Homo sapiens: one gene and its partner. The protein of the gene in region 1 interacts with the protein of each later gene in a biochemical or structural test. Each region holds a gene or a part of one and is shown on either strand. Other genes may lie near its edges. The genes, in order: STXBP4 and RASSF6.

Region 1 (3,830 bases):
AGCAGAGATAGTGTTTGAATTGGGCTGTGAAGTTTAAGTCAGAGTTTATTGCAGAGAAGTGGCAGGGTGGATGGTGGCATTCTAGATGGGAATTCATATGTGTGAAAACATTGAGGTTCAAAAGACCATGGCTGGTTTGAGGCACATTCTCTGAGAGTAGAATGAAGAATATGCTGGTGTGGAAGGTGGATGATGAAGCTAGAAAAAGTAAGTTGCAGTAAATTTGTTGTGCTGGGTTTGGGATGTTGAGGAGTTTCAACTTTTCCTACCAGTTGGCAGCCATCAAAGGTTCTCAATCTAATGAGTAATATAATTAAATTTGCTATCAGTATGAAAATTGTCCACAACAGATATGGAAGTCTCATTCACTTCATCTTATTTAACACGTATAATGTGCTATAATTTACATATGTTACTTAATTCTTATAGCAACCTTGTGTTACATATATTTATCCCCATTCTACAGCTAAGAAAATAGAGGTTCATAAAAGCTGAACAACTTGCCTCAGTTCACAGTAATAACTGGAGTTAAAAGAAGGTCACCATCAGTCTACATCTTGTAAAAGTACAGGAAAGGAATCTTAAGGCTTACAGAAGGACTATTCCTTAGTATTAGGTATAATGAGTTAGTTAAGTCAGAATTAGGCTGTATAGATGGTTTCTCATAATATTGAAATGTATTATTTAGAAAACTATATACCAAAGTCAATATAGAAATGAATAGTACTGGTCGTTTTTAACAGAAGTGTTTATGTGGTCAGGAATATATTATTATTTCAACATCTACATGAATGTCAATGTGAAAGAATTCAGATCTGAAGTTCAGCATATGAAAGTGCTTGGCACATTGCCTCCCATGTCAGGTAGTTGCTCTGTAACTGCTGAATTGGAATCTAGACTGTGTGGAAGAGGTCTCAACATATCTCTGAAGTTAGTATCTTCACATATACATTAATCCATCTGGGGCAGAATGCACTCGAATGCCAGACTTACAAAAATAGCTTTGTTTTCATTTGCAGGTTCTGACTTTTAAACAGGTTCAGAAATTCACATGATCAGCTAAGATCTTATTCTAGGAGGCAAAGAAAAAAACTAACTGCTATGAATACTTTTTAGAAAGAAAAAATATGTAAACACCAGAAGTCATAGTCAGAAGGCATTCTTCTTCTTCTCTTTTCTGACTCCCTTCCTGCCAGAAAATGCAGCTTCTATACATCAGTGTACTTTAATACAAGATGGGCTAAATTGCCTTCATGTGAACTTTTTTTCTGTACTAACACTGCATGTTATGTTGTCTGACTTTGCTAACTATGTTTAATCACATATTTACATAAAATCAAAAATTTTTTTTAAATTATATATATAACATAAATATATATAATATAAATATATATATTATATAATATAAATATATATATATTTTATATATTTTATATATATATATATTTTTTTTGAGACAGATTTTTGCTTCATTGCCCAGGCTGGAGAGCAGTGGCGTAGTCATGACCTTGACCTCCTGGGCTCAAGTGATCCTCCCACTTTAGCCTCCTGAGTAACTGAGACTACAGACATGTGCCAGCTATTTTTTTTTTTTTTTTTTGAAAGATGGGGTCTAACTATGTTGCCCAGGCTGGTCTTGAACTCCTGGGCTCAAGCAATCTTTCTGCCTCAGCCTCTCAAAGTGTTGGGTGTACAGATGTGAGCCACCGTGCCTGGCTTATATATTTTTAAAAATTAAGTTGACTCTTTTGGCTTAAGTATTTTAAATAATGTTTACATTTCAGTAGGATAGGGTCATTATGCATCTAGATTATATAATCTTTTACACACTATTTGAGATATGTTTCTATAAAATCCTTTCATGAATGTTTTATGTCAATTTTGTTGTTTTCCTATATATTCTTTAGTCAGTGAAAGAGATAGTACTTCATGTCTTTTTAAAAAATAATAATACCTGTTGTTATTTAGGAGTAAAATAACTGTGAATCACCATTATTACAAATAATACAGCTTAGATCAAAGATCAGTATCCAAGGGATATATTTTAGTAGATAAGACTTTAAAGAAAGATGTTTTCTTGAATTTGTGGAAGTTACTTAAGTACCATCAAGGTGAAAATCTCCCTTTTTAACCATATAAGCTTTTTCTGTAGTTATAAAAATAATGGTTTCTACCACTGTACTAATTAATGATAAATAGGGAAATACCTTAGGAACTGTAAAAGAAGAAAGCTTATTTTTATTTTCTAGTTTGAATGAAAAGAAAAGACAAAAACTGGGAAACTTATCTAACATATCTAACAACCACATTAACTCTTGTTCCTGATATGCTCTGTCTTACTCAGTTAGGCTAGCTGTGAGCAAGCCAGGCCTTAGCAAAGGCAACACCAGGCAGCCAGTTAGAATTGTCATTATTAGCAGGATATGGCTAACAATATATGCACAGCCAACTAGGCCTTAATCATAGGGGGATAGCAGGTATAGTAAAAAAGATTATGCTGAAATATGGGTAGGATCAATATAATTAAAATCCTTGGCCAGGCGCAGTGGCTCACACCTGTAATCCGAGCACTTTGGGAGGCCAAGGTGGGAAGATTGCTTGAGCCCAGGAGTTTGAGACCAGCCTGGGCAATGTAATGAGACCTCATCTCTACAAAAAATTTTGAAAATTTAATTTTTTTTTTTTAAAAACCCTTGACTAAAGTTTTAAAAATCTCAATGTGGGATAAATCCACACACACATTGAACAGTTTGGTGGGAGGACATATGTAGGAATGCAGAGAAAATAAAATAAATGAGTTTTGTATTGTGAAATATCCCACAGTTATTTGGCCCACTTTATCACAGAGTCAGAGCTTTATCAGCCCCATAGTGCTCAGTTTTTAAAACAGGTCCCTTTTCCTGGTATACTGGCCTATGTCCTACCTACCATATTAAGAATTCTTTACCACGTAAATTTATTCATGCAATACATGAACCATTCCATTTTACTCATAATATATGTTACCAAACCAGACTTTAATCAAGAGATTTTGCTACTGAGGTTGTCTAAGATTTTACTTTTTACTCTTTTTGAAGGCATTCTTCACGAAAACTTTTCATTGCTTTAATTACATCAATTAATTTTTTTTTAAATACCTCATTAGTTCCTTTATAAATGTTACTGTTTTTGTTAGGATGGTCGTTTGAAGCCAGGAGATCAACTTGTCTCAGTCAACAAGGAATCTATGATTGGTGTATCATTTGAAGAAGCAAAAAGCATAATTACCGGAGCCAAGTTGAGGTAACTATACTATCCATGAGATAGAATGAGTCATTTAGAATGTCTCCTTGAAAGCAGTAATTTAAGATGTATTAAGTACTTTATAATAAGTATTTTTTAATAACATCTGAAACATTATCTTGGATTTCAGTTGTACTATATTCATAGCATATCCATAAAGTGATTTCTTTTTAGTACTAGGTTAGAATCTGCTTGGGAGATAGCATTCATAAGACAAAAATCCGACAACATTCAGCCAGAAAATCTGTCATGTACATCACTTATAGAAGCTTCAGGAGAATATGGACCTCAAGCCTCAACATTAAGTCTTTTTTCTTCTCCTCCTGAAATACTAATCCCAAAGACCTCATCCACTCCCAAAACAAATAATGACATTTTATCTTCTTGTGAGGTAAGTCAGGTAATCTTAAATTTCTCTATATATGCACTCCATAAATTCCCTATACATTTTTACATTGGTTATGTACATATAGAATTATTTCAGTAAAATTGTTAACAAATTAATATTTCTTTGAAAGATTTTTTTCTATTTAAAATTTTTATGCTGT
Region 2 (3,830 bases), on another chromosome or scaffold:
AAATGATTAAATAAGTGATTGTTAGGCTGCCATTGAATGGAATGAGTAGATTTATGCCAATAGAATGGAGGGAGTTCCATAATATATTTTAAGTGAGAAATGCAAGATGCCTAAAGGTATATATAAAAGATCCCATTTTTTAAACAGTTACAAGCTCCCATTTAAGTATGTGGTATATATGGTCTTATGACTAGGGAGAAAGGTATGGAGTGATAAATACAAAACCATTGAGATAGATTACCTGGTGGGGGATTGGGGAAATGCAGATGAGAGGATGAGAAGGGGGGTGTCAGGCACGGTGGCTCATGCCTGTAATCCCAGCACTTTGGCAGGCCGAGGTGGGCGGATCATTTGAGGTCATGAGTTTGAGACCAGCCTGACCACTATGGTGAAACCCCGTCTTTACTAAAAATACCAAAAAAATTAGCCAGGTGTGGTGGCGCACACCTGTAATCCCAGCTACTCAGGAAGCTGAGACAGGAGAATCGCTTGAACTCAGGAGGCGGAGGTTGCAGTGAGCTGAGATCGTGCCATTGCACTCCGTCTAAAAAAAAAAAAAAGAGAAAAAATGATTTGTTTAAAGGTGTGTACAATAAAAATAGCAAGCACGATATGATTACCTTTATGTATTATGAGTTGTGTGAGGGGGACACTCAAAGGGTAATGCAGAGTATCTCAGGGCTTGGAAATTCCAGTTGTGCTTTACTTCCTGCTTTATACTTTTCTCGTTTGTTCCAATTACAATAGCATGCATGTTTGGGGAAGGGAATTTTTTTTTAAGTTTAAAAAAAGCAGTTTTATTAAGAAGTCTTAAATGATTGTGTGATAACTTGAACAGCTAGGTTGTACAAGATTTGAAAATTCCCTCTTTGGTGTTCTCCAAGACTTGGATTCCATTCACATGCACCTCGTTCTTTCCTCACACCTCTAACTTTAGCCTGCAGTTGAGCAGAAATATGGCTTAGTTTCCTTCCAGTCATTCTTGGGCTCCACACAAGGTGCTGGACCTATGAACGAACAAGCGTGTTGTTTTTATAAGAAAAAAATGTCTATTTTCATTATAAAAAATGTAGTTCTTTATAATTTCACCTATAAAAATCCCATTTTCTTTTATATTTTGTGTCAAAATTTTGCATATATCCATAACTGCAGATAATAATAACTAGGTCAGAAGAGAGCATATGGCTCCTGTTTGGGCAGTAATCTGGAAAACAGAGATAGGTGGGTTTTAACTTTATATCTACAAAGCCCATTACAGTGTATCTCACACTGTAGTTCATTTCAGATTACCTATAGAGTTCACTTAAAATACAGATTCCCAAGTCCTTCCAGATCAGGGGACAACTCTAGGAATATGCATTTTTAATAATCATCATCATAATTTTTTAATCATTATTTTTAATAATCATCCCATAAAGCAGAATCATGAAGCAAGAGGATGCTAAGCCAAGTTAACATTGGACCTGAAGGTCAAAAGAGGATTCTGGTGGGTGGATGAGAGGAGCTAAGTTGTCAAGGCTCCCAACTGCTTCAGAAATGGCAGAGGAATTAGAACAGTAAACACTGACACTATGTGAACAGGAATGGGTAATATCACTTTAATTGTGGGGAGGCTGGGCTTTTGAGTTCTAGACTCTCTCTTGACTCTTTTCCTGGGATAAGTCCAGCTCAGGGAATGAGAACAGTTCTCACTGTTCTGAAGAAAGTAAGCAAGGTGAAGGAGAGAATGAGGAAATAAGATGAATATAAGGACACTATGTTTTGTTCATGCTTTATTCTGATAAAAATGAAATCCCAGATGTGAAACTACTTTGACAGAAAGCTATAAGTACTTTTGTAGCAGGAGTATTTATATTATAACTTTTGGAAATTTGAAGTTCTGGAAACACACCAGATTGGAAGATATTTTCTTTCTCTATCTCATTTTCATGGCTGAATGGATTAAGCCCAGATGAATGAATAATAAGAATATTATTGATCTCAAAAACCTCATGAATATATTTTTAAAGATGAGCCAAGAATTGGGTGTGGAGCGAGACAAAGGAAGAATTGAAAATAATTACATGGTTTTGGACCTGAAGAACCAGAAAGATGGAATTACATCAACTCAACTTGGAAAGAACCAATAAATATTTGTTGTATGGATGAAGGAATGGTGGAATGAAACCTAAATAATTATTGAGGCATATTGCTTTATAAAAGGCCTATCAGACCGGAGATTTGTTTGAACACTCTAATCAAAGGAAGGCTGAGTTCTTTGAGACATTAATCAAAACTTGAGATACAGTAAGAGAAAGAAGTTCATTTAAGTTTTAATTTCAATTTGCTTTTTTGAGTAATTGCCTCCTGTTGCAGGTGTTATTTTTTTCAAAGTGAGTTAAATACGAAAAATAAATTGGAAAATTATCTTCCTTCTTTTCCTGCAGCATGAACTTCTGATTGTGGTTGATTCTTGTTTTCACTGCAGAACAAAGACGACTAAAGAAGACAGACATTCCGCTACTGCAGAGGCTCCTACAGGGACCTTCTGAAAAGAATGCTCGCATTTTCCTCATGGATAAAGATGCAGAAGAAATTAGCAGTGATGTATGAATACCATCACCCTGAATCTGTTTTTTGCTTCCCTCCTGACTCAGCACCTCTTGCATAATTGTTCTGCTTTCTTTTTTTTTTCTTCTTCTTCTTTCTTAGGTGGCTCAGTACATTAACTTTCACTTTTCTCTCTTGGAATCCATTCTTCAAAGATTAAATGAAGAAGAGAAAAGAGAGATTCAAAGAATAGTAACAAAGTAAGTCAAGAGCATGCACATTGGATACTCCGTTCTTTAATATGTCCAATGCACAAAATATGTCCAATTTTTAATAGTCTTTCTTCTTCTCATTTTCAGATTCAATAAAGAAAAGGCGATTATACTGAAATGTCTTCAAAATAAACTAGTAATAAAAACAGAGACAACAGTTTAGCAGTACAAGCTTCTATTGCTAAAACATTTCAAAAAACTCAGAGATATTACTCTTTGATGAATGCATAAGTTCTGTACTTGCATTTATACGAACATATATGAGACTTGAATCGTAGAAAATTGAATGTCAAAAAAAGCTCATTTCTTTTTGAAGTGATGAGGTTAATTAGGGTTCACAGTTGGACAAAATGAGTTTGAGTTTAGTTTCAGTAACTGAAATAAGCTTGAATACTGCATATGCCAAATAGCTTTTATAGTAAACCATGTAATGAACTCAAATTTAAATGGTGTCTTCAGATAAGCAGTTTAAACTTCATTTAGCTTGGACTCTCAAGAGAACTGAAACATAATCAATGGATTCAGAAATGACTCAGAAAAAAGAAGCTGCCAGTTCTTGGAATGAAAAAGAAATACAGTCTTACACCATCAAGGAATCTACCTGATAGTGACAGTAGCTTCTTGAAAACTCTGGCATTTTCATAAAATCTAGGACTATCTTAAATGGCCTGTTGACTTCTGACTATCTGTAACATCAGAGCTGTCTGGCCTTTGGAAAGGAAAAATTATGGACTCTGTTAAGAAATCCTAATTGAAATTTTCTGAACCTCCCCCCAGCCCTTTTATTCTCTCTCTTCTGCTGATGAAAGACCTTTCATCAGTTCAAAGCTTTTCTTAAGCTCTTTTTTAAGTTAATTGAACTTTTTCTTTATTTATTTTTCAAAAAAATGTTTATATCACATAGACATATTACATCGGCTAAAGTAAGACTTGGCCCACAAATACCTATTTGTTGCTGAATGAATACAATGGATAAAGCAAGGCTGTTGTAGCTGAAGTTACATAGGGAATCCCAAACTCTGCCCTCTT

What was found.
Region 2: the proteins of STXBP4 (region 1) and RASSF6 interact in a test that uses a peptide from one of them, tested with the Homo sapiens proteins (one large-scale study listed by IntAct).

Annotation. Positions count from the first base shown.
Region 1 is NC_000017.11:54,996,170-54,999,999, forward strand, and holds part of STXBP4 (syntaxin-binding protein 4), read left to right. Parts: intron 1-3,175; coding exon 3,176-3,282; intron 3,283-3,456; coding exon of another isoform or gene 3,457-3,462; coding exon 3,463-3,673; intron 3,674-3,830. UniProt on the Homo sapiens protein: Plays a role in the translocation of transport vesicles from the cytoplasm to the plasma membrane. Inhibits the translocation of SLC2A4 from intracellular vesicles to the plasma membrane by STX4A binding and preventing the interaction between STX4A and VAMP2.
Region 2 is NC_000004.12:73,575,369-73,579,198, reverse strand, and holds part of RASSF6 (ras association domain-containing protein 6), read left to right. Parts: intron 1-2,467; coding exon 2,468-2,586; intron 2,587-2,691; coding exon 2,692-2,789; intron 2,790-2,866; coding exon of another isoform or gene 2,867-2,888; coding exon 2,889-2,964; 3' UTR 2,965-3,830.